7 linked regions of the Homo sapiens genome follow. The protein of the gene in region 3 interacts with the protein of the main gene of each other region in a biochemical or structural test. Each region holds a gene or a part of one and is shown on either strand. Other genes may lie near its edges. The genes, in order: DLG4, PDZK1, PKN2, HTRA1, RHOA, GRIP1 and GRID2IP.

Region 1 (3,500 bases), on a different chromosome or scaffold from region 3:
TGAAGGAATGAAGAGGTCCCAGGCGTGGGGGCCTCTTGGGGGATGCACACACCTCAACACACACGCATACAGCACACGCACAGGCACACAAACGGCGCACGCACGCACACACACACACAGCACACACACAGGCACGCATGCATGCACACACGCACAGGCACACACACAGCACACGCGCACAGGCACGCGCGCACACACACATTCTTGCTTTAGGCTTTACATCCACTCCCATTGGCCTGGCCTGTTTCTCCTCTGTGGGACCAAGGTGTTTCCAGCCCCACAAACGCCCCCTCCCCCAGACCCCAGGAGCCCAAGCCCCAAACCCCCGCCCCCAGTCCCAGCATCCCCCTCCCCACGGCTCTCTCTCACCCTACCGGCCCTTAGGGATTGCTGCAGCTCCGAGGCTCCGAGGGCCGCACTGGGGAGGGGGCCACCAGGGTCTCCTACCTTGAAGGGGGAGAGGTGGGCGTGGCCCACGACCCCGTGGCCAGCCTCGAGGTGGGACAAGTTCCTCTCCGCCACGTGCACCAGCTCGGGGGCGTTTACCTGGTTGGGGAGGTGGGCCGGGCTGTGCTCCAGAGGGGGCGTGTCTTCATCTTGGTAGCGGTATTTCTGGGGATGGGGACGGAGGTGTCACTGGGGCCAGCCCGGTGCCTCAGGCTCCAGGCTGGCCGCCCTGGCCGCCGCCTCTTCCCCCAGCCAGTGCAGTGCGGAAGGCCCTGGGGCCTGACCAGCTCCTCCCCCTCCCTCTCCTCTAGCCCATTGGCTCCCCTCTCTCCACTCTCCCAACAGCCCCCTCTCCCGCCAGGGCCTCAGCACCTCTCATCAATCCCCAGGTCCCAATCCCATCCCCCAACTCCTACTCCTCACATCCTGGGACACTGGCCTTCTGGTGGGCATAGCCCCTCTGGCATCTGTGTCTTCACCCCTTTCCCCACCACCTTCATCTTCGAGTCCCTCCAGCTTCTCAGAGCTCTAGCCCCGACACTCACATCTCCATTCTCTGCCTCCAGTCCCCAACTTCCTTGCTTCTCTCACCATCTCAGACTCACTCTTGTTCTAGCCTCCCCTCCCCTACCCCTCTGGCTGCTCCTACTCTGCATGGCATCCTCCCCGCGCCCCACCTCCATGGCCTCAGTCTCCCCATTGCAGCCTCTACCCCACAGGTGATTGGCTCTCCTTTACCTTGCACTCCTTAGGCAAGGACTGAAGTCACCCCTTCCACCAGAAGGTACTTGGTATCAGCCCCCGAGACAGGACAAGGCTAAGCCTGTCCAGTTCACTGCCCTTGCTGGTTTCCAAGCAGTCAACAGAGGGGCCCCGGGAGTCTGGCCCTACCCCTGCAACAGCCCACAGCCCAGCCAGCTAATCCGGTTATGCTATAAGGGCATGGGCTGGGGGAGGAAGGGGAAGAACAGAGACAGCAGGGCTCAGGACAGGGGCAAGAATGGGTGCCAGCCTCCCTGGTTGGGGAGGAGGGTAGCATGCTGAGCCTCAGAGTGAATTTCTGGTCTCCCTCTGCTCTTTTGGGGTGAAAGGCCCAACATGACCCCTGACTCCCTGCCCAGTTAATCAGCTGCCATCCCAAGGGCCTCCTGTGCTAGCTTAATAGGGACAACAGTAAAATGAGATTAACTGGGGGCCAGAGAAGGAGGAAAAGGGCAGATGGAGACAGCAGAAGAAGACAGCGTTTCTGCCTGGGTCCTTCCGTGTCCGCCTCTGCCCTCGCCTGCTCCTCTCCTCTGGAACGGGCCTCCACAGAGACTGACCCTCCAAGCTCCAGGTTCAGGAAGGGGAAGGTATCATACGCAGGGATCCCTCAGGAACTGAAGAAGACAGAATGCACCGCCCAGTACACATGGGTAAAAAGAGAAGGCACGGCAATCCCAGCACTTTGGGAGGCTGAGGCAGGCAGACAGCTTGAGCCCAGGAGCTGGAGTTGGAGACCAGCCTGGGCAACACAGTGAAACCCTGTCTACAAAAAATACAAAAATTAGCCAGGCATGGTGGTGCACACCTGTAGTCCCAACTGCTAAGGAGGCTGAGGTGGGAGGATTGCTTGAGCCCAAGAGGTGGAGGCTGCAGTGAGCCATGATCACGCCACCGCACTCCAGCCTGGGCAACAGAGTAAGACCCTGTCTCAAAAAGAGAGAGAGGCCAGGAGCAGTGGCTGATGCTTATAATGCCGAGGTGGGTACATCACCTGAGGTCAGAGACCAGCCTGGCCAACATGGTGAAATCCCATCTCTACTAAAAATACAAAAATTAGCTGGGCGTGGTGGCACATGGCTGTAATCCTAGCTACATGGGAGGCTGAGGCAGGAGAATTGCTTGAACCTGGGAAGCGGAGGTTGCAGTGAGCCGAGATCATGCCACTGCACTCTAGCCTGGCGACAGAGTGAGACTCCATCTCCAAAACAAAAAAGAGAGAGGGCGAGCAGAATTTCCCTCCCAAAAGTTTCTGAGAGGCTGAGAGTGCCCTAATACTTAGAGGGCAGCAGCTGCGAGATCAAATGGGAGGAAGCTTATCAAGGTCAATGGCCAATCCTTGAGTAGGATTCTGAAAATGTTAAAGATGATGAATCAAGGCTGAGAATATAACACAACTTTGGCTGTAGAGTAAGGGTACAGTAAGAGAATGGGAGAAGGGAAGTGGTCCTGTCAGCACGAAAACTCTCAAACCCAGAACACAGAGACAACTCAAATCAAGAAGCACCCTGATACATTTAAAGAGTCTTAAAGAAGGAAAACGGGCTCAGCAAGATTGAGTCTATTCTCTGGGCCACAGACTTGGAGAGAATCCTGAACTCCAGATTTCAATCCGATGGGCACAAAAAGTAGAGAAGGAAAATAGGAGAACACACAAAATAGCCCTCCTCCAAGGCTGAGCTGTCTTGAATAAAGGAGTTCTATGAACCAACAGAGACTGTTCATTCCACATCCTGAGAAGGTGGTCTTCTACCTGGGCAGTGCACAAGCTGAGGGGCAAGCCCCAGAATTGAGACCTGGGGGAAGGGGTGGAAGCCGCTCTCCGCTATCCACTCTTCCTTCACAAGGCCTCCAATTCCCTGCAAGGTAAATTAGGACCAAAGCTCCAAGTTTTGGAGTCTGGGGGAGGGTTTGAGTCCAGTGCCTCTCCATCTTCACTCCACCTCAGAGAGAAAATTCCTGAATCTGAGGAGGAAATGTCAGCGTGCACCCAAAGAAAATGGAAACATGAGGAGGGCCATTTCATCATTTATTCTAGGGAGGAAATGAAGGTAAACTTTTATCTCAGCGAGCCCCCAATACCTCTCCCTGCCCCACCCCCATGGAGGGAGGGTGGTGTCTGGCACTGAAGAAAAGGCTCCTCAGGATTGGGAGGCAACATGGAGAAAATGGGGAACAAGAAATGGGTGCCAGGGTTTCCAGAATGTGGCTGGAAGAGGTTAGGGACTAGGTTCAGTCTCTGGAAATTTTCGACGTACATGTAGGGGGGCGGGGAGAAACGTCGGGAGGGG
Region 2 (2,942 bases), about 57 Mb from region 3:
AGTTGACTGAACTCTAGTTGACAGTCACTATCAACCCTGATTGGCAGTCATATTTGTTTGCTTCTGTGCATTTGGCATAATGCCCCTTACCCTGTAGGGACTGATAAGAATCCCTAAAGCTTTCAAGTTGGGAGTGAAGAAGGGGGACCTATTTATCCCCCTTCATCCCAGAAGACATATGATGCTGAACCACTATTTATAATACCACTAATCATGTGAATATGGAAGTTATAGCCTTCATAAATATAAAAGCATTAGAACACCTTTCTCAACTTCTATACCTCAAGGAGAAATAATAACATGATTAAAAATAAATTCTTGAGCTCCTCATCTATTCTCTTAAGGAGAGCTAGTCTGATGTCCCCTTCTCTGTTTGAAATTGATAACTCAGAACTTCTGTTCACAGGTACAGAAGGGCGGTCCTGCTGACTTGGCTGGGCTAGAGGATGAGGATGTCATCATTGAAGTGAATGGGGTGAATGTGCTAGATGAACCCTATGAGAAGGTGGTGGATAGAATCCAGAGCAGTGGGAAGAATGTCACACTTCTAGTCTGTGGAAAGAAGGCCTATGATTATTTCCAAGCTAAGAAAATCCCTATTGTTTCCTCCCTGGCTGATCCACTTGACACCCCTCCAGATTCTAAAGAAGGAATAGTGGTGGAGTCAAACCATGACTCGCACATGGCAAAAGAACGGGTGAGTGGGGGCCTATTTCTTTTCGTGATCTAATTTACTAGAGTATGGGTACAGTCCCTATGAGTATATTTAATGTCTATGTTTGCCACAGATTTTTTTAAAACTAGAAAATGAAAATGTAAAGATAACTAACAAATCAAGTTATTGTAGAGGACAGGAGGCAGTATAAGAACAACAAATTTCTTACTTTCATAGCATGCAGCTGACAGCAACTGTCTAGAGCTAATAAATCAAGAAGTAAAAAGTTTATCAGTATTGTAATGGGAACCCCCAAAAGAGCCTGAATCGGATGATCTAGATATGAATTCTGGTTCTGTCATTTGTCAGCTGTGGGGAAATGGATTTATTTGTTCTGTTCCTCAGTTTTCCCACCCATAAAACAGGAATAATTTGTAGGATTGTTATCAGGATCATGTTAACTAAGATTAACTATATTAAAGTGCTTTGAATAGTGGCTGGCTCATAGTGAGCATGTAAGTGGTGACGGTTAAAGACAATATTGTTTAAAACAACTGACAGGTAATCCAGTTTTATTACTAGGAAAGATTAAGCATTCTCTATATTATTCTCTATATATTTGGATTAAATTTCTTGGTAAGTCTCAGTTTTATATTTTTGCCCAATTTTTCATAGATGAACTTGAGGTCGAAAAGTAAACTGACTTATCCAAGTTCATAAAGGAAATTTATAGCAAAGCCGAGACTCTAAAAAAGTTTAATTCAATGTTGTTCTTCTTTCCATTATATTAATTCTGCTAATGGGTGGAATATTCATTTTAATAAACTCAGTTTAATGAACACACACAATGCCCACTGATTTGTATTCAGGAATGCTTAATAAATACTATTAGTTGTATTAGTTGTCATTTAAAAATTCTGTAATTTCTCTTTAGGAAGTCAATATCCTAGTCTTATAAAAAAGAAATATACACAGACATTAAGGAATTTGTTAATGTGTCAAACAGCAAGTTGAAAACAATCAAGTGTAGAATTCAGGTCACCTGACTTCTAGTCATACCCAGATCATCTGATTCAGGCTCTTCTGGGGGTTCCCATTACAATACTGATAAACTTTTTACTTGATTTATCAGCTCTACACAATTGCTGTCAACTGCATGCTGTGAAAGAAAGAAATTCTAGTGAGTGACTCTACTCCCCGACTTAAGTCATGCAACTCTAGAATAGATCATCCCTCTTTCATTACTCTACCATTTGTAAATTCTTTGTTTTCTTATACACAGGCCCACAGTACAGCCTCACATTCTTCTTCCAATTCTGAAGATACAGAGATGTGATGAAAACAAGTAATAGCTTTGGCTGTTTATTTGATAGCTGTTTCTGGGTATTTAATAGGAATCCTTTCTCAAGGAATGAGTTGTGACCTGTTTACTGTCTCTTTAGAAGAAAAACTCCACTGGAAACCATTCACCATGTGTGATTGTCTTCTGTTATCATTTGTCTTACAGGCGGCTATTGCAGACGGCTAATTTATGCTTAACTTAGGAAGAGATAAGGCAAGAGCTAGATTTTTTTCATGTGATCTTTTCCAAGCTTCAACTTAACTTAACTACATTTCTCTGTATGATGATGTCTCTTACTTCTACAGGTTCCTTGAGCACCAAAGATGATTCATAACTCTGTATAGGTGACAGCTGCTTATAAAAGCATCTTAGCAGATAAGCCTATTAAAATTGTGCTTTTGTAACAATGTTGTGGTTGCTAGAATAAATACCATTAACAAATGCCTTTTGAGTATGCTTGATAGTGCTTTTGTTTTGGATTCACTTTTTATGCTTTAACCTTCATTTGCCTCTAGAAACCCAAAACACAATAAAGTACAGAATAAGACCTTAGTAATAAAATTCAGAATTTTCTTAAATTGCATGTCTGAGTGTTCTAAAAATTTTTCAACATTTCCCTTTCACAAGTGACTTATTCCCCCAGTTAAGTTATTCACGGTTTCACCCCACAGCGTGAGGGGCAGATAGAAAAAAAAAAAAGGAAACATCACTACCGAATTGAAAGTAGGGTATAATACTAAGTTCACAGGAAATCAAGAAAAAATGACATACCTGAAATCTCTCTTTTGGTAAAATCTATTTCAGGTGCATACCACCCCTTTCCCGGAAAAGAACAGATAACCTCTTTCTTGGTTATTTTAATGGGGCAGGATCAGATGAGGAGGTGTGGGATGCTAACTGATGTTAGATCACACAAGCATAATAAATACCAAGCTATGCTTGATA
Region 3 (3,500 bases):
ATCATAGCTCACTGTAACCTCAAACATCTGGGCTCAAGCAATCCTCCTGCCTCAACCTCCTGAGTAGCTAGGAGTACGGGAACGTGCCACCACACCTAGCTAATTTTTAGTTTTTTGCTAGCAATGGCGTCTCACTGTGTTGCTCAGGCTTGTCTCAAACTCCCGGCCTCAAGTCATCTTCCCACCTCAGACTTCCAAAGTGTTGGGATTATAGGCGTGAGCCACTATGCCCAGCCTCTATTCTTACTTTTCTTATTCCCTTCTTGCTCCCTTTTATGAGATAGATAGATATATATATTCTCCCACCTCAGCCTCCCTAGTAGCTGGGAGTACAGGTGCACACCACCACGCTCAGCTTATTTTATTTTTTTTGTAGAGATGGGGTTTCTCTGTGTTGCCCAGGCTGGTCTTCAACTCCTGGGCTCGAGCAATCTGTCCACCTTGGCCTCCCAAAGTGCTAGGATTACAGGCATGAGCTACTTATGCCTGGTCTTTCACTAAATCTTGAACTCCTCGCAACCACTCACCTCACTTCCTCCGTAGTTTTGCCTTTTCCACAATGGTCATACAGTTGGAATCTTAACAGTATGTAGCCTTTTCACATTGGTTTCTTTCACTTAGTAATATGCATTTAAGTTTCCTCTATGTCTTTCCATGCTTTGATAGCTCATTTTTGGTTTTGTGCTGAATAATACTCTATTGTGTGGATGTACCATAATTTATTTATTCATTCATTTACCGAAGGACTTCTTGGTTGCTTCCAGGTTTTGGCAGTTATGTATCAAGCTGTTATAAACATCCATGTGCGGGTTTATTATTTTCTTAGTGATTACCCCAATGATTATAACTAATGTCCTAAATTTATTATAATCTTATCTTTAGTAGCCTACAAAAAACTCTTTGACTGTGCCCTTGTTATATTGTCACAAACTCTCTTTATGCACCATATACCCATTAACATAGGCTATAAATATTGTTTTATGCATTAGTCTTTTAAATCATAAAGGAAACAAAAAGAAGAGTTACTTAAAATACAGAAATATTGGCTTCTGGCCAGGCGCAGTGGCTCACGCCTGTAATCTCAGCACTTTGGGAGGCCGAGGCGGGTGGATCACGAGGTCAGAAGATCGAGACCATCCTGGCTAACATGGTGAAACCTCATCTCTACTAAAAATACAAAAAAAAATTAGCCGGGCGTGGTGGCAGGCCCCTGTAGTCCCAGCTACTCAGGAGGCTGAGGCAGGAGAATGGCGTGAACCTGGGAGGCGGAGCTGGCAGCGAGCCGAGATCGTGCCACTGCACTCCAGCCTGGGTGACAGAGCGAGACTCCGTCTCAAAAAAAAAAAAAAAATACTGGCTTCTATATTTACTTATGTAGTTAATTTTACCTGCGTTTGTCTTCCTTTTTTCCTTTCTCTCTCCCTCCCTCCCCCTCCCCCTACCCCCTCCCCCTTGCCCTCCCTGACACTGCCCCCACCCCGCCCCACCCGTCACTTCTCCCATCCTTCATTTCAATCTAAAAGGCTTCTTTAGCATTTCTTATGGGCGGGTCTCCTAGTGTCTACCTCCCTTAGCTTTTGTTATCTAGGAATCTCTTTCTTTTCTTTTTTTGAATGATAGTTTGGTATATATATAGAATTCTTGGCTGGCAATTTTGTTTTTTTCCAGCACTTAAAAAAATGTCCAACTAGGCACAGTGGCTCACACCTATAATCCCAGCACTTAAGGAGGCCGAGACGGGTGGATCACTTGAGGTCAGGAGTTTGAGACCAGCCTGGCCAGCATGGTGAAACCCCATCTATACTAAGAATACAGAAATTAGCCAGGCATGATGGCGCATGCCTGTAATCCCAGTAACTCAGGAGGCTGGGGCAGGAGAATCGTTTGAACGCGGGAGGCGGAGGTTGCAGTGAGCCAAGATCATGCCACTGCACTCCAGCCTGGGTGACAGAGTAAGACTCTGTCTTAAGAAAAAAAAAAAAAGTCCTCCTGCTTCCTCCAGGCCTTTATGTTTTGTGATGAGAAATCCACTGTTAATGTTACTGAGGATCCCTTGTAAGTGATGAATTATTTTTGTCTTGTTGCTTTCAAGCTTTTCTTTGTTTTTTCACAGTTTAATTATAATGTGTCTTAGAGTGGATCTTTTTGAATTTATTCTACTTAGATTCTTTGAGCTTGATGTGTAGGTTCTTGTCTTTCATCAGATTTGGGAAGTTTCCAATCATTTCTTCAAATGTTCTTTCTTCTCCCTCTGAGACTTTGATTTTTGCCTACATTGGTGTGCTTTATGGTATTTCTCTTAGACTCTGATTTTCTTCATTATTTTTTCTTTCTGCTCTTAAGACTAGACAAGTGCAATTGATCTACCTTCAAATTGGCTCACTTTTTCTTCTGCCTGCTCAAATCTTGTATTGAACCTCTCTAGCAAATTTTTTCATTTTTGTTATACTTTTCAATTCCAGAATTTCTGTTTGGTTCTTTTTTATAATTTTTAAATCCATATTGATGTTCTCTATTTGTAGACACATCACTTTTCTTGTTTCCCCTAGATATTTGTCCATGGTTTCTTTTAGATTTTTGAGCATCTTAATTTAGTAAGTCCAACATGTCTTGACTTCCCCAGGGTCAGTTTCTGTTAATTTCTTTTTTCTGTGAACTGACCGTATTCTGTTACTGTGCTTGCTTCATAATTCAAGTACTTCATTTCCTTAGTATACTTACTCACAAATCAGATTTTACTCTTTCCAAAGATTTCATTTTTCTGCTATATGTTGAATGTAGTTGTTTGCCTAGTAACTTTTATAATCTATTTTGTAGAGACTATTCTTTCTCATGTATTACCCCTGAGGTGTCTATTTCATTAATATATTGTACACCAAAATAAAATTCTAAGCCACCCAACTAAATGAATGGACCCCCTCCTCTCAGCCAATGGCATTCTAAAGTAAACCTGAAACACTAGTTCAGGTCGTGCTGGGAATGGGTGGTTTGGACATGCCTCATTATGCCTTCCTCCCTTTGGAATTCAGGTACTGCAGACCAGCATTAACATCAAAACAGAGACCTTAAGACTGACTGAACAGACTCTTTCAGTAGATAAGAAACATTTACAGTCTCTTCTTTCTGAAGCCTGCTATCTGGAGGTTTCATCTACAAAATGAGAACCTGGGTCTCCACAACCCCTTATCTTAACAGCACTCTTACAATACTCCCTTGTATTGATTCCAGGTCTTTAGATAAACTCTTTCTACCAGTTGCCAATCAGAAGATCTCTGAATCCACCCGTGACCTGAAAATCCCTACTTCGAGTTGTCCATCTTTTCTGGACCCAACTAATGTACCTTTTACATGTATTGATAGATGGCTTATGTCTCCCTAAAATGTACAAAACCAAGCTGTAACCCAACCACCTTGGGCACGTGTTGTCAGGACCTCCTGAGGCTGTGTCACGTATATCCTTAATCTTGGCAAAATAAACTTCTAAATTGAGACCTGTCTCA
Region 4 (3,500 bases), on a different chromosome or scaffold from region 3:
GGCTGCTCAGTGGACTGAGGCTGGAACTGGGCCTTCCAGTGGCCAGGCCAGATCCTCCTTGATCTCCCTTGTTGCTTTCCTGGTGGGAAGACCCTGGAACCACTTTATGTGACTGTGTGAGAAGGGAACTGCCTCTCATTTTACCCAGCAAAATCCACCTTCAATCCATCTTCATTTTTGCCCCTGGTGTGGGCAAATTCTCCCATACCTAATTCAGGAAGCCAGAAAGAGGAAGTGAGTTAATGATCCTTAGTGGGAAGGCGCTGGTAATGGTCCTTCTTGTGAGAGTTTCTGAAACACCACGCTGTCTCTGTGTTCTGGCCTGGCTGGAGTTAAACCTCTTCTTGGCCTTTCCCCAGGAAGCTGGTCTGAGGAAGCCCAGATGCGTTTGTTTACAGCTGTCTGGTGACATTCGCCAGGCTCTGTTTTCAGAAGGAACATTTCCATTCCCTTATTTACACCTCCCATTGGAGTGCTCGGGGGGACACACCAATTATTTGCAACTACCTGGAAACCTAGGAGGGTAGCAGATCTGTAGGAGGCCAGTGTTGAAGTGAGAAGCTGTAGATCTGGTGACACTGTGGGCTTGGGAGGGCTTGCCCAGATCTGTTACTTATACTCTCTATTAAGAAACTTCAGTGTCCATGGAGAAGTTATTTAAAGTCTGCGAGCCTCAGTTTCCCCATATATAATATGGGAAGGATACCTGATTTTCCTATTCCACATGAAGGTAGAAAAAATTAAATTAAGGCAGCCAATGAAAGGGTTTTGAAAGCAAAAATAATAATATGATACTGTTCTGAATTTGTTAAATTATTCTTCCAAGTAGTTGCAGATCTTTTTCTGTACCTTAGAAAAAAACCATGCTATGTAAAAGGAGATGATTCCAATCTTTAAATAAAGCAACTCAGAGGTCAGGGGCTAGGACAGAAAACGGCCCTTTGTTCACAGAAGCGCTCTCACTTCCAAGAAAGCAAGCGTGGGAGAGGCAGGTGGTCCTCCCGATGTCCCTGTGCCCCATGGTGTCAAGCTGGGTTACTATGGCCCTTCGTGACCCAGTGCAGCAGGGATGTGGGAACCAGTGGGTGTGAAGCTGTGACGGGTCACAAGAGGGCTGGGACGTCTCACAGCTTTTACTTATAGCCTAGAGCCTGGGGAAGGGTTGCCACTCTAGTGATGAGAGAGGCGTGTGTGTGTGTGTGTGTATGCGTCTGTATGTATGTGTGCATTTGCATGTATATATGTGTGACTGTATGTATGTGCACATCTGTGAGTATATGAATGTGTGTGGAAGTGTGTATAGGTGTTTATGTGACAGTTTGTGTGTAAATGTGGGTGTATGTGTGGGTGTGTTTATGCATGTACATCTGTGGGTGTGTATGCATAGTGTGTATGTGTGAGTTTGTGTGTGTGTGTGCATTTGCATCTCTGTGTATATATGCATGTGTGTTAGGGGCAGGCACACAGGCCTGTTGGTAAATGAGACACAAAATACCTACAAAATACAAAATGTGAGACAGGAAATACAAGCCCCAGTTACTCATTTTTCAGTGCAACAGACATAAGATTACCATGTGAAATTGCTATGAAAGTTTCCGAAAGCTTCCTGTCAATTCGTAGTGAGCAGCTAGCAGAGGAGTGCGGGTCCCTGGAGCCTGCTTGTGCAACGCTGAGCTAGTCCAAGGGGGAAGAATGGGGTGCATGGCTCTCAGCTGCAGACCAGCCTGGAACCTCTCCAGCCTGCTTTAGCAGAGACTTGTTAAGAGGTAGCAGCAGGTGGCAAGATTAGGAGCCGGAGTAGTAGGCTAAGGCTGCACTTCCAGGGACACACTGCCTCTGCCACCACCCGTGCCACGAAAATGGGAGCCCAGGACCCTGAATCTCTAGCAGTCCGTTTCTGAATCAGTTACCTTGGGTATGTGCCTCTGGTTGATGGAAACTAACTTGTAGCCCTGCTGGGTGAGAGCCTCACATCGGGACATGTGACAGCTTTGTTGAAAGTAGCTTTGGAAACGCCCACCACGTGGGGCCACTCACTGTAATATAAACGGTCATGCATCACTGAGCAACAGGGATACGTTCTGAGAAATGCGTCGTTAGGCGATTTCATCACTGTGGGAATGTTACAGAGTGTGCCTACGCAAACCTAGATGGCAGAGCCCACTCCACACCTAGGCCAGATGGCAGAGCCTGTTGTTTCTAGGATGCACGCCCGTACAGTAGGTTACTGTACTGAATACTGTAGGCAGTTGTAACAATGGTGAGTATTTGTGTATTCAAACATAGAAAAGGTATAGTAAAAACAATGGTGTTATGGTCCGCGGCTGGCTGAAACGTTATGTGGTGCATGACTGTAGGTATAAAGCATTACAGTTGTTTGATTTTTCTCTTTTTCTCACCCACAGTCTTAAGGCACCTCTTATGCCTTTTGTCTGGGATGTCCCGGGCAGGGTTGGAACGTGTGGTTAAGGCATGGCGGAAACTGCTTTGGGGACAGACGATGGCCTCAGCTTGCCTTGGGGTGTCAGTGGGAAAGATAGGAGCTGCCCCTTTGCCTTCGTGTTTCTTCGTAATAATCTCAGATGTACCCGTCTGGTGGGCCTCTCCTAGAAAAAGCCCCGGTGCTCTTTGCTCCTGCGGTGTTTCTCAGGAGGGTTGTTGCTTCTTTGTAATGGTGGGGACTCAGGGAAGGGACGCAGGCAGAGGGTGATGCCACATCAAAAAGGGACCCTTGGCTGGGTGTGGTGGCTTACGCCTGTAATCCTAGCACTTTGGGAGGCCGAGGCAGGTGGATCACCTGAGGTCAGGAGTTCGAGACCAGCCTGGCCAACGTGGTGAAACCCGGTCCCTAGTAAAAATACAAAAATACAAAGGTGGTGGGTGCCTGTAATCCCAGTTACTCAGTAGGCTGAGGCAGAAGAATCGCTTGAACCGGAGAGGTGGAGGTTGTGATGAGCCAAGATTGCGCCATTGCACTCCAGCCTGGGTGACAGAGTGCGACTCCATCTAAAAATAAACTGAAAAAAAACAAAAAACAAACTTGGGCCATCAGCTTCTTGGAAAGGCTGGTGTGAGGTTGAAGCATTTGCTGGTGCCTCTGCTCAACGTTTTTGTGGTGAACCTGAGCAAAGAGGTTATCATTAGTGGATTTTACTGCCTTACCTGGGTGGGCACTCCCTTGGGAGGTGGATGGACATTTGCAGCTGAGCCCAGGTGGGGGAATTGCGCTCACTCCGCCTTCAGAATTCCAAAGGCTGGGCATGCATCTTGGCTTCCTCTAACCCATGTCTTTCTCTAGGTGGCCACAGCAGAGTGTCATTAAGTATCTATTCTTTGCTTTTGTTCTCAGGGCAGGAAGATCCCAACAGTTTGCGCCATAAATATAACTTTATCGCGGACGTGGTGGAGAAGATCGCCCCTGCCGTGGTTCATATCGAATTGTTTCGCAAGTAAAGAGAGCCTTCCTTTTTCCTATAACCTCCGAAGCTTTCACCGCCACT
Region 5 (3,500 bases), on a different chromosome or scaffold from region 3:
GGATAAAATTCTATAATATCTGTATCTATATATATACACACACACGTATTCACTGCTGTATGTAATATTGTCCTGAGAATTCACAAATGAGTAATGGCAGCACTGTCAGCCCTCTGAGTTTTTTTGTTTTGTTTTCATTGTTTATTTTTGTCGTTGTTTGCCCTCTGAGTTTTCTTCTGGTACCCCTGTGGATTGTCTTATCCATTCTGGTTGGGGAACATACCCTTTAGACAATATAGTTTTGATAATGAGTATTTATTATTATTATTATTATTATTATTATTATTATTATTATTATTATTTTTGAGACAAGAGTCTCTGTCACCCAGGCTGGAGTGCAGTGGCATGATCTTGGCTCACTGCAACCTCCACCTCCCAGGTTCAAGCGATTCTCTTGCCTCACCCCACCACGCCTGGGTAATTTTAATATTTTTAATAGAGATGGGGTTTCATATGTTGGCCAGGCTGGTCTCAAACTCCTGACCTCGTGATCTGCCCGCCTCGGCCTCCCAGTGTGCTGGGATTACAGGCGTGAATCACCATGCCCAGCTGAGTGTATATAATTTAGGATTAGTTTGACTATAGGTAACAGAGACTTGAAAAATACCACCTTAAATAAGACAGTCATTTATTTCTCATTCATATGGAAGAAACATGGAAGGTAGGCAGTCTTGGGGCTGAGATGGTGGCTCCCAAGATCACCTGAGATCCAGGCTCCTTTTTACCTTTTGGTTCTTCCAGCCCCACGGTATGGCATTCATTCTCACATACCAGGATGGCTGCTTAGAAACCAGCCCTTACTTTAGATTTAAGCAGCAGGAAAGGAGGAGGATAATAAAGACTTCCCTTTAAGAAAGACTTTCTGGAAGTCCCACAACATACTGCTGATTCTCACATCTCATGGTACATGGCCATGTCTCCAAGGGAAGCTAGGAAGTGTAGTCTACAACAAAGTACATAGCTAAAAATCGAAGTATGGTCTAGGAGGGAAGGGCGGGAATTGGGATGGTTGACCATCACTGTCTGCCAGATGGAAGGAATCTGCAGATTTCTCTCTTTTTTCCCCCCACTGGGGGCGAGAGTGGTGGTAACAGCTTTATTGAAATATAATCCACATATCTTACAATTCACCTTTTTAAAGTGTGAATTATATATACTGTGGGCTGGGTGCGGTGGCTCACGCCTGTAATCCCAACACACTGGGAGAGACAGGCAGGAGGATCGCTTGACCTCAGGAGTTTGAGAGCAGCTGGGGCAACGTGGTGAAACCCGGTCACTACTAAAAATACAAAAAATTAGCCGGGTGTGGTGGCATGCACCTTTAGTTCCAGCTACTTGGGAGACTGAGATTGGAGGTTCACTTGAGCCTGGGGAGGCTAAGGTTGCAGTGAGTGGAGATCGCACCACTATACTCCAGCCTGGGCAACAGAGTGAGACCCTGTCTCAAAATAAATAAAATGTGTGAATTATATATACTATAATCAATAGTTTATAGTATATTCATAGAGTTGTGCAGCCATCACCACAATAATTTTGGAAAAATCTTTTTACCTGAGAAACTCCAGTATTCCATTAGTCATTTTCCATTTCTCTCCACCCCCAAGTCCCTGCCCTAGGCAACTACCAGTCTATTTTCTCTTTCTGAATTTGTTTATTCTGGACAATTTTATATAAATGGAATCATGCATGTTGGTTTTTGTGACTGGGTTCTTTCACTTATATAACATTTCCAAGATCTATCCATACTATAGCATATATCAGTACTTTATCCTTTATCGCTGAATAATATTCCATTCCATTGTATGGATATATTATATTCATCAGTTGTTGGATATTTGGGTTCTTTACATTTTTTGACAATATATTATGAATAATCCTGCTATGAATATTCATGTAGAGGTACAAGTTGTTATGTGGACATATGTTTTTGTTTCTCTTAGATATATACCTAGGAATAGAATTGCAGGGTCATACCTACTCACATCCTTTGCTCATTTTTTAATTGGATTAGATTATTTGTCTTTTTATTATTGAATTGTAAGAGTTCTTTATTTTTTAATTTTTTCTATATACTGTATTTAGGCCTGGGGAGGTGGCTTATGCTTGTAATCCCAGCACTTTGGGAGGCTGAATCGGGAGGATTGCATGAGCCCAGGAGTTTGAGACCAGCCTGGGTAATATAGTGAAACGCTATCTGTATAAAAATTAGTCAGCTGTGGTGGCAGGAGCCTGGTAGTCCCAGCTACTGGAGAGGTTGAGGTGGGAGGATCGCTTGAGTTGAGCCTGGGAGGCAGAGGCTGCAGTGAGCCAATATTGCACCACTGCATTCCAGCCTTGGTGACAGAATGAGACCCTTTCTGAAAATAACTACATAATAGAGAAACACATAGATAGGTTAGATAGGTACATAGATTGGATAGATGCGTAGATAGATGGGCAGTGGCTCACGCCTGTAATCCCTCAGCACTGTGGGAGGCCGAGGCGAGTAGATCACTTGAGCTCAGGAGTTGGAGACCAGCCTGGGAAACATGGCAAAACCCTGTCTCTGCCAAAAATACAAAAATTAGCTGGGCGTGGTGGCGCATGCCTGTGGTCCCAGCTGCTGGGGAATTTGAAGTGGGAGGATCACTTGAGCCTCGGAGGTGGAGATTGCATTGAGCCAAGATCACGCCACTGCATTCCAGCCTGGGTGACAGAGTGAGACCTCATCTCAAAAAAAAAAAAAAAAAAAAAAAAGATAGATGGATAGATAAATAGCGTACTTCATGTCAGAAGGAGTTCTCTCTTTTTTTTTTTTTTTTTTTTTAAGACACAGTTTCACTCTGTTGCCCAGGCTGGAGTGCTCTGTTGCCCAGGCTGGAGTGCAGTGGTACAATCTGGGCTCACTGCAACTTCTGCCTCCTGGGTTCAAGCGATTCTCCTGCCTCAGTCTCCCGAGTAACTGGGATTACAGGTGCCCACCACCACACCCGGCTAAGTTTTGAATTTTTTGTAGAAACGGGGTTTTGCTGGGTTGGTCAGGCTGGTCTCGAACTCCTGACCTCAAGTGTTCTGCTTGCCTCAGCCTCCCAAAGTGCTGGGATTACAGGTGTGAGCTACCGTGCCCAGCCCAAAAAGAGTTCTTTATGATTTCAACCTTGCAAGAGATCCTGAGCCAGACCACCAACCTAAGCTGCTTTTTTGTAGTTGAGTCATAAGAGTTTGAGACAAGGTTCCACTCTGTCACCCAGGCTGGAGTGCAGTGATGCAATCATAGCTCACCACATCCTCCACCTCCTGGGCTCAAGCAATCCTCCCACCTCAGCCTCCTTGGTAGCTGGGACTACAGGTGCATGCTACCACAACTGGCTGATTTTTTTTTTTTTCTTTTCCTTCTTTTTTTAGAGACAGTGTCTCACTGGGGTTCCCCAGGCTGGAGTGTAGTGATGCAATCTCAGCTCACTGCAGCTTCCACCTCCAGGGCTCAGGGGATTATCCCACCTGAGCCTCCCAAGTAACTG
Region 6 (3,500 bases), on a different chromosome or scaffold from region 3:
AAAGGGAACAGAGAGAATGTGCAGGGGCTTCCTGGAACAAGGCAGAGAGCCTGCTGAGAGGCTGGAGGGACAGGTTGGAGAGATAAGCTGTATCTCACAACATAATATTGAATAGGAAAAATAAAAGTGTGGTTCTATGCCTTGCTTTTATTTTTGTTTTAATTTTTTTTGAGACGTAGTCTTGTTCTATTGCCCAGGCTGGAGTGCAGTGGCATGATCTTGGCTCACTGCAATCTCCGCCTCCTGGTTCAAGCGATTCTCCTGCCTCAGCCTCCCGAGTAGCTGGGATTACAGGTGTGTGCCACCACGCCTGGCTAGTTTTTGTATTTTTAGTAGAGATGGGGTTTCGCCACGTTGCTCAGGCTGGTCTTGAACTCCTGACCTCAGGTGATTTGCCCACCTCAGCCTCCCAAAGTGCTGGGAATATAGGCCTGAGCCACTGCACCCAGCTGTGCCTTGCTTTTAAAAAGTCAACCTCACAAGCACAATCTGGAGAGATGCAGTTTAACTGAATATCACGGGTAAAGAAAAAAAAACACATTCACAAGACTTTGAGATCTCGGTAAACTGTAAGCGCAAAATGAGTGACAGATGTGCCATGACCACTAAAATTCTTATGTTGAGGTAGGTGTCATTGATCAGTTCTCCTGTCTTCAATGATGCCAGTGACCAGCTTGCTTTGCTCCGGGCTGTCGGGCTGTTGTGTGATTTTCCTTTCTGAATGTTACACTTTAACGGGTACACAGGTAAACTGAAGCACATTCGTAAGGGAGGTCCACAGGACGATACAGATACTCGTCAGTAAATTATAGAAGACACAGTTAAAGGAACTGGGGCTATTTTGCTTGGAGAAGGAAAGCCTCAACAGAGACCCAATAGCTGTCTTCGAGTATCTAAGGGGCTGTCAGGAGAAGAGGCTTTAGTCTAGTGCAGAATGACCTTGAGGGTATAGCCGGGACTATTAGGCATACTGCAGCTCAATACAAGTGAGAGCTTTAGAGTCATCAGAGCTACGTGGAGATGGGGGGCTGCCTCAGCACAAGGAACAACCTGTCACCTTGGGCATTCAAGTCCATGCAGCGTGTCTTGGCGTGCAGTGAGGCAGGACCTGGCACCAAGGGCTGCACTGGACATCAGACTAGCTGACTCCTAAACCCTTTCCAAACCTGAAATCCTGCCTTCAGCTCCCATGTTCGTCACAAGAATTAATGGGGATTAGTTATGTGAAAGTGCTTTGTAAACTCTAGAGTGTTCTATATATATAAAGGGTTATTACTATTTTTTCATTACCTTGGAGTACTTCGATTCTATCCTGATTGCCATTGTCTCTACTTATCCCTCAGTTCCCTTCAACCTCATAAAAATGTCTAAATTATAAATGCAAAATGTAATATTATGACTATGATTCAAAATTTCAAAATGCTTCACAAATAGTAAATGGTTTTTCATCTTTTACTAGTGAGGGGCAGGTCCTATATTCAGTTTGCTTCTCATGGTCCTGTGTCTGTGGTTTCAAGGGATGGAGTAGCTAAGGTCTTACAGATCACCTTACAGGGAAGAACTAATTAATATCAATAGCACCCTCACAAAAATCTCTGGTAACAAAAATATCTCTACATTAATAAGCAATACACAAAAAATACACAAATAAATAACCAATACACAATAAATTGATAAATAAACCTGAGTCTACTCTGATAGAATGTGACTTCTGTCCTTTACTCAGTGTCTTCTGGTGGCCCATCAATTCTCAGGCAATCAGAAGGTCTGTTATTTGGTGGCATAGGTGAACTTGTCACAAGGTATTATGACTTGGAAAAATTAATTGCCAGATAAAGCCCCAATTCTACTTAGGTGTTCAAAGTATTTTCCCCACCTAACTCCAGTATCATCTCTAATGAAAGTAACAACTTGACAACTTTGAAATATCATCTCCTTTCATTTTTTTTTCCAGTTTTTTCTCCCTTCCATTTTTGTTTTTTGTTCACCAGAGGACTTAACAGAGAGTGACACAACATAGGCAGGCTGAGAGAAGGAAACTAGGAAAACCAGGAGAGAGCAAACTGGATACAGACACTCCTAAAAAGTACAGTTAACTCAGTGACAAAGCAGCCCTCACACCAATGTGTTCTCTAAACTGTTTATGTGTTTTATTATTTGACTGACTGAAACCCAGAGCAAACAAGGGATTCAGAGGCTGGAATTTACATAGAACATGAGAGAAGGTAAGGCTCAGATGAGGAGAAATACCAAGAAGTTTTGACATACTTCTCTTGTTGATGCTACGGATCACTGGGAAGAAAATATTTTTTAAAAGAAGCTATTAGTTTATGCTCTGTATTCAGTCTGACACCTTTTATGTGTTTATATTCCATGAGTGAGGCTTTTTAATGTAGATAGTATTTCTTCACATGACGATGACACCTATGAAGAAAAATCTACTCTATACTTTCCTATATTGTGATTATAGTGCTCTAATTATAAACATTCAGGGAAAGGGCATGGTGGCTCATGCCTATTATCCTAGCACTTTGGGAGGCCAAGATGGGAGGATTGCTGGAGGCCAGAAGTTTGATACCAGCCTGGAGAACATGACAAGACCCCGTATCTACAAAAATTTAAAAATCAGCTGGGTGTGGTGGTGTGTGCACATAGTCTCAGCTACTGAGGAGACTGAGGCAGCAAGATCCCTTGAGTCCAGGAGTTTGAGACTATAATGAACTATGATGGTGCCAGGGTATTCTAGCTGGGGTGACAGAGTGAGACCCAGTCTCTAAAAGAAAAAAAAAAGTCAGGAGTGTGCAGGAATAAATAGAGTCACAAATCATTGGCTAATCTCTTATGCACCTCTTCCAAACTCCCCAATCCATCTTTGTGGAAAGCTTGCTGAAAAATAAGGCAATGGGGCCTGTATTGAACGAGCCACTTTATTGTATGGTTTGCCTCACATTAATCTAAGCTTGAAGGACAAGCCCTGGATGGGATACTTGGCCATCAGTAGACCTAATGGAGGCCTGTTAGTGTTTGGTAAAGGTTCATGCCTTATAAGCACTAGAAGAAAATGCATGGCCAGCAGAGTGTAAGTATTCAATGTGTTCAATATGATTATGGCTGCACCAAAGCAGACACAAGTTAAAGAAAGATATTCTCCTCATGGAGCAGAGGATGAATCTTGGAGAAGCATGGGCTTCAACAATGACAAGTCCTCTGGGGGACAAAGTAAAGACATACCTTGAGTTCCATAGCTGGTGTCTATTGCAGACCCATCCCATGAATCCACAGCACTGTCCACACTGGGCACCGTGGAGGGGTACATGTCGGAGAGCTTGCCTGGCTTCTGTGCTGGTGAGGAGTCCTCCTCCACATCCCCCAGGTCACTCAAATGGCTAGAAATAGGGAACTTCTTGGGGCTCGATGCTGACTGGGCTTTATAGACAGGAAAGGAGTTTAAGTATCAGAGTAAATTTAAATAAAAATATACCAAGATACTCCGTGGCTAG
Region 7 (4,223 bases), on a different chromosome or scaffold from region 3:
CCCATCTCTACTAAGAATACAGAAAAAAAAAATAGCTGGCCATGGTGGGGTACGCCTGTAATCCCAGCTACGCGGGAGGCTGAGGCAGGAGAATCACTTGAACCCAGGAGGTGGAGGTTGCAGTGAGCCGAGATCACACCACTGCACTCCAGCCTGGGTGACAGAGCGAGACTCTGCCTCAAAAAAAAAAAAAAAAAAGTCTATGAGCTTAAGTGTCCCAGCCGCCAAGCAAATACTGAGTTTCCAGGCTTCATGTCCACAGGGGTCCGATAGCCAGGCAGGGGTAGGGACTGAGTGTCTTGGCTCCGGACTATTTCCTAGTCGCACACAGGATCACTTTTTGTTCCATTCAAGTATTAGTGAAATAAAGGCCTTAGGACCCCATCTGAAAGCCCTGGAGGACAGGAGTGAAGGTGAATGGCATGGGAGGTTGCTGTACTGGGACCTAGTCAGTGGCCTGGGGTAGCTGTAACCATACTAGGCAGCTTCTTCTTTTATAACCATGTCACGTCCCAGGTTTCTTGGAATTGCCTGGATCTGTCCAGTAAATGGCAGGTTCCTGCAAATCAGGGGTTGCTTGGGATTCAGGCCTGAGACCGACTCTATCCTCCCTCTTTCCATCCCAGCCCTGGGTCTCTAAATGGTGCCTCCATCTTGGCTTGTGGCCACACCCTACTTCCTGCAGGTGACTCAGGCCTTGGGTTCTTCTTGTGGCTAGAGGTCTGATCCATTCCAGGCTCCTCATTCTTAATCTTCAGGACCACGCTAATATTCCACCTGCAGTCTATCACAGCCTGGTTTGTGCCAAAGTCAAGAGGAAATGCCTTTGGCAGATTGGTGAAGCCAAACTAGGGCCTCCTGCAGCCAACAAGCCAGCCAGGCCGCTGTGCAAGGGCAGGTCTAATCCTGGTTTTGTGGGGGCTTAGAACAGGCGGAATTCTTTTACATTTTTTTGGAGGTGGGGAATGGCGGGGAGGGGAATGGAGTCTCACTCTGTCACTCAGGCTGCAGTGCAGTAGCATGATCTCAGCTCACTGCAACCTCCGTCTCCCAAGCTCAAGTAATCCTCCCACCTCAACACCCTTGAGTATCTGGCACCACAGGCGCGCGCCACCACACCTGGCTGGTTTTTTTTTTTTTTATATTTTTGATAGTGATGGGATTTCACCACATTGCCCAGGCTGGTCTCAAACTCCTGAGTTCAAGTCATCAGCCCTCCTCAGCCTCCCAAAGTGCTGGGATTACAGGCGTGAGCCACCTCACCCCACTGGCTCTTTTACACTTGATCTTAGATGAAGGGCCAAGAAGCGATATCTGTGGCTCTTTTTATTTTATCTTTTTATTTTAGAGATGCGGTCTCACTCCGTTACCCAGGCTGGAATGCAGTGGTGCAGTCATGGCTCACTGCAGCCTCAAACTCCCAGGCTGAAGCGATCTTCCTGCCTCAGTCTCCTGAGTATCTGGGACTATAAGGCATGCACCACCATGCCAAGCTAGTTTTTGATTTTTTTTGTAGAGATGGTGTCTCATTACGTTGCCCAGGCTGGCCTTGAACTCAGGGTCTCAAGTGATCCTCCCACCTTGGTCTCCTAAAATGCTAGGATTACATCTAGCACCTGGCCTGCAGTTAAGTTCTAATGGGGAGGATAGACAGAGAAAGGGGCACGTGGGAACATTCTGGTGTCAATTATTCTATAGTCTACATTATATTTTTATCTATATCCTATTATTTTATATATTGATCAAGAGGGTGGTTATTCAAGGGTGCATGTATATGGAAAATTTATTGAGCTGCACACTTAATGCACTTTACACCTATAGTACCTTAATAAAAAAGAAACACAAGTGAATAAAAATTGCAAAATTAGGCCGGGCGCAGTGGCTCATGCCTGTAATCCCAGCACTTTGGGAGGCAGAGGTGGGCAGATCACTTGAGGTCAGGAGTTTGAGACCAGACTGACCAACATGGTGAAACCCCGTCTCTACTAAAAATACCAAAAAAAAAAAAAAAAAAAAAATTAGCTGGGTGTGGTGGCAAACGCCTGTAATCTCAATTACTGGAAGACTGAGGCAGGAGAATCACTTGAACTTGGGAGGCAGAGGTTGTACTGAGCCAAGACCTGGCCACTGCACTCCAGCTTGGGTGACAGAGCGAGACTCTGTCTCAAAAAAAAAAAATGCAAAATTGTTTGCAAGGTTTTGAAGTTGAGCATTCCCATATTTCTGTTAAATCTGACCCCAGAAGTTTCCTTACCTCTGGCCCTGGGAGAGCGGCGCCCGGCCCACTCCCTGCCCACATTATGAGCCCCCTCCTTCCCGCCCCCACCTCCCACCCCCGCGCCTTACCTTGCGGCTGAACTCTTGGGCCTTGCGCCTGCGCTCTCGGTGCACCGCGTCCGGGCGCTTGCGGCCGGCCAGGCGAAGCAGCTCACGGCCCAGAGCTAGGCCGCGGCCGCACCGCGGGGCCCGCAAGACTGTGGTCGGGGCCGCGGGGCCGGATCCTGGGCCGGGGCCACCGTCGGGAGCCGGGAGCACGCCCAGACTGGGCGGCACACGTGGGCAGCGCCGTGCCAGGCGCACGAGGCGCTCGCGGCTCAGACCGCCCACCGCCAGCCCCTCCACCTCCAGGATCTGGTCTCCTGGCCGCAGTCCTCCGGCATGCGCGCTGCTCCCCTTGGCCACCTCCAGGACGAAGCAGGGGCCAGAGCCACCTAGCCGGAAGCCAAAGTCCTCTGGCCAGCCCTGGTTCGTGGCCGGCGTGGCAGTGGTGGCCATGCACCTAGAACTGGAGACAGAACAGGGATTTCCTTGCTGCTCTGTCCATGGCTCCAAAGCCACTCAAAGGCCCAGGGCCACTGAAGGCCTCTACTTATCTCTGCCTCCTCCCTCTGACTCCGTCTTTGTCTCAATTCCCTTCCATCTATGTTTTTTTGTTTTGTTTTGTTTTTGTTTTTTTAAGACAGAGTTTCGCTCTTGTTGCCCAGGCTGGAGTGCAATGGCGTGATCTCAGCTCACCGCAACCTCCGCTTACTGGGTTCAAATGATTCTCCTGCCTCAGCCTCCTGAGAAGCTGGGATTACAGGCATGTGCCACCAAGCCTGGCTAATTTTGTATTTTTAGTAGAGACGGGGTTTCTCCATGTTGGTCAGGCTGGTCTCGAACTCCTGACCTTAGGTGATCTGCCTGCCTTGGCCTCCCAAAATGCTGGGATTACAGGCGTGAGCCACCGTGCCTGGCTTGCCTAATTGTTGTATTTTTAGTAGAGACAGGGTTTCACTATGTTACCCAGGCTGGTCTTGAACTCCTGGCCTCAGGTGATCTGCCTGCTTGGCCTCTCAAAGTGCTAGGATTACAGGCATGAACCATCATGCCTGGCTTGTTTTTTTGTTTTTTGTTTGTTTGTTTGTTTGTTTTTACTAAAAACAAAATTGGGGAGGGGGTGTAAAAGAAAAATGGCCCTTCCTTAAAGTCTTCTTTTGAGTGCCTTGGATTTTTAACCAATGCGGCCACATCCTTTTCCATGGGCCCCTCCTGCTTCCACAGGTCTGTTTTACTGTCTTACATGTACACTTGGCTTCCATGGGCCCTCCTCACTCCCTACACTTTAATCCCTCTTCTTACCCCTCTCCATCTACCAAAATTCCCTTTCGGGATCTGGCATGAATCACAAACTTACGGAAGTCCAGAATGTTGGAGCAGAATGGTCCCTCAGAGACCATTCATATCTTTGGGCATTTATTTTATTTTATTTTATTTTTGAGACAGAGTCTTGTTCTGTCACCCAGGCTGGAGTGCAGTGGTGTGATCTCGGCTCACTGCAACCTCTGACTCCTGGGTTCAAGCGATTCTCCTGCCTCAGCCTCCCGAATAGCTGGGATTACAGGTGTCCACCACCATGCGCGGCTACTTTTTGTATTTTTAGTAGAGACAGGGTTTCACCATATTGGCCAGGCTGGTCTCCAACTCCTGACCTCAGGTGATCCACCTGCCTTGGCCTCCCAAAGTGCTGTGATTACAGGCGTGAGCCACCGTGCCCAGCCTCTTGGGCTTTATTTTTTAGAGGCAAAGTCTCACTCTGTCACCCAGTCTGGAATGCAGGAACACCATCATATCTCACTGCAGCCTTGACCTTCCAAGCTGAAGTCATCCTCCTGCCTCAGCCTCCTGAGTAGCTGGGATCACAGGCGCATACTACCATGCCCAGCTAATTAAAAAAAAATTTT

What was found.
Region 1: the proteins of PKN2 (region 3) and DLG4 interact in a test that uses a peptide from one of them, tested with the Homo sapiens proteins (one large-scale study listed by IntAct).
Region 2: the proteins of PKN2 (region 3) and PDZK1 interact in a test that uses a peptide from one of them, tested with the Homo sapiens proteins (one large-scale study listed by IntAct).
Region 4: the proteins of PKN2 (region 3) and HTRA1 interact in a test that uses a peptide from one of them, tested with the Homo sapiens proteins (one large-scale study listed by IntAct).
Region 5: the proteins of PKN2 (region 3) and RHOA form a complex in vitro, tested with the Homo sapiens proteins (2 studies listed by BioGRID, with this or other methods).
Region 6: the proteins of PKN2 (region 3) and GRIP1 interact in a test that uses a peptide from one of them, tested with the Homo sapiens proteins (one large-scale study listed by IntAct).
Region 7: the proteins of PKN2 (region 3) and GRID2IP interact in a test that uses a peptide from one of them, tested with the Homo sapiens proteins (one large-scale study listed by IntAct).

The regions. Positions count from the first base shown.
Region 1 is NC_000017.11:7,207,628-7,211,127, forward strand, and holds part of DLG4 (disks large homolog 4), read right to left. Parts: intron 613-3,500; coding exon 547-612; intron 1-546. UniProt on the Homo sapiens protein: Postsynaptic scaffolding protein that plays a critical role in synaptogenesis and synaptic plasticity by providing a platform for the postsynaptic clustering of crucial synaptic proteins.
Region 2 is NC_000001.11:145,670,485-145,673,426, reverse strand, and holds the end of PDZK1 (Na(+)/H(+) exchange regulatory cofactor NHE-RF3), read left to right. Parts: intron 1-406; coding exon 407-697; intron 698-1,787; coding exon of another isoform or gene 1,788-1,820; exon of another isoform or gene 1,821-1,937; coding exon 1,938-1,991; 3' UTR 1,992-2,162; coding exon of another isoform or gene 2,163-2,183; 3' UTR 2,184-2,442; downstream 2,443-2,942. UniProt on the Homo sapiens protein: A scaffold protein that connects plasma membrane proteins and regulatory components, regulating their surface expression in epithelial cells apical domains.
Region 3 is NC_000001.11:88,774,773-88,778,272, forward strand, and holds part of PKN2 (serine/threonine-protein kinase N2), read left to right. Parts: intron 1-3,500. UniProt on the Homo sapiens protein: PKC-related serine/threonine-protein kinase and Rho/Rac effector protein that participates in specific signal transduction responses in the cell.
Region 4 is NC_000010.11:122,485,553-122,489,052, forward strand, and holds part of HTRA1 (serine protease HTRA1 precursor), read left to right. Parts: intron 1-3,349; coding exon 3,350-3,449; intron 3,450-3,500. UniProt on the Homo sapiens protein: Serine protease with a variety of targets, including extracellular matrix proteins such as fibronectin. HTRA1-generated fibronectin fragments further induce synovial cells to up-regulate MMP1 and MMP3 production.
Region 5 is NC_000003.12:49,377,477-49,380,976, reverse strand, and holds part of RHOA (transforming protein RhoA isoform 1 precursor), read left to right. Parts: intron 1-3,500. UniProt on the Homo sapiens protein: Small GTPase which cycles between an active GTP-bound and an inactive GDP-bound state.
Region 6 is NC_000012.12:66,389,077-66,392,576, forward strand, and holds part of GRIP1 (glutamate receptor-interacting protein 1), read right to left. Parts: intron 3,427-3,500; coding exon 3,232-3,426; intron 1-3,231. UniProt on the Homo sapiens protein: May play a role as a localized scaffold for the assembly of a multiprotein signaling complex and as mediator of the trafficking of its binding partners at specific subcellular location in neurons.
Region 7 is NC_000007.14:6,548,662-6,552,884, forward strand, and holds the start of GRID2IP (delphilin), read right to left. Parts: upstream 2,801-4,223; 5' UTR 2,776-2,800; coding exon 2,347-2,775; intron 1-2,346.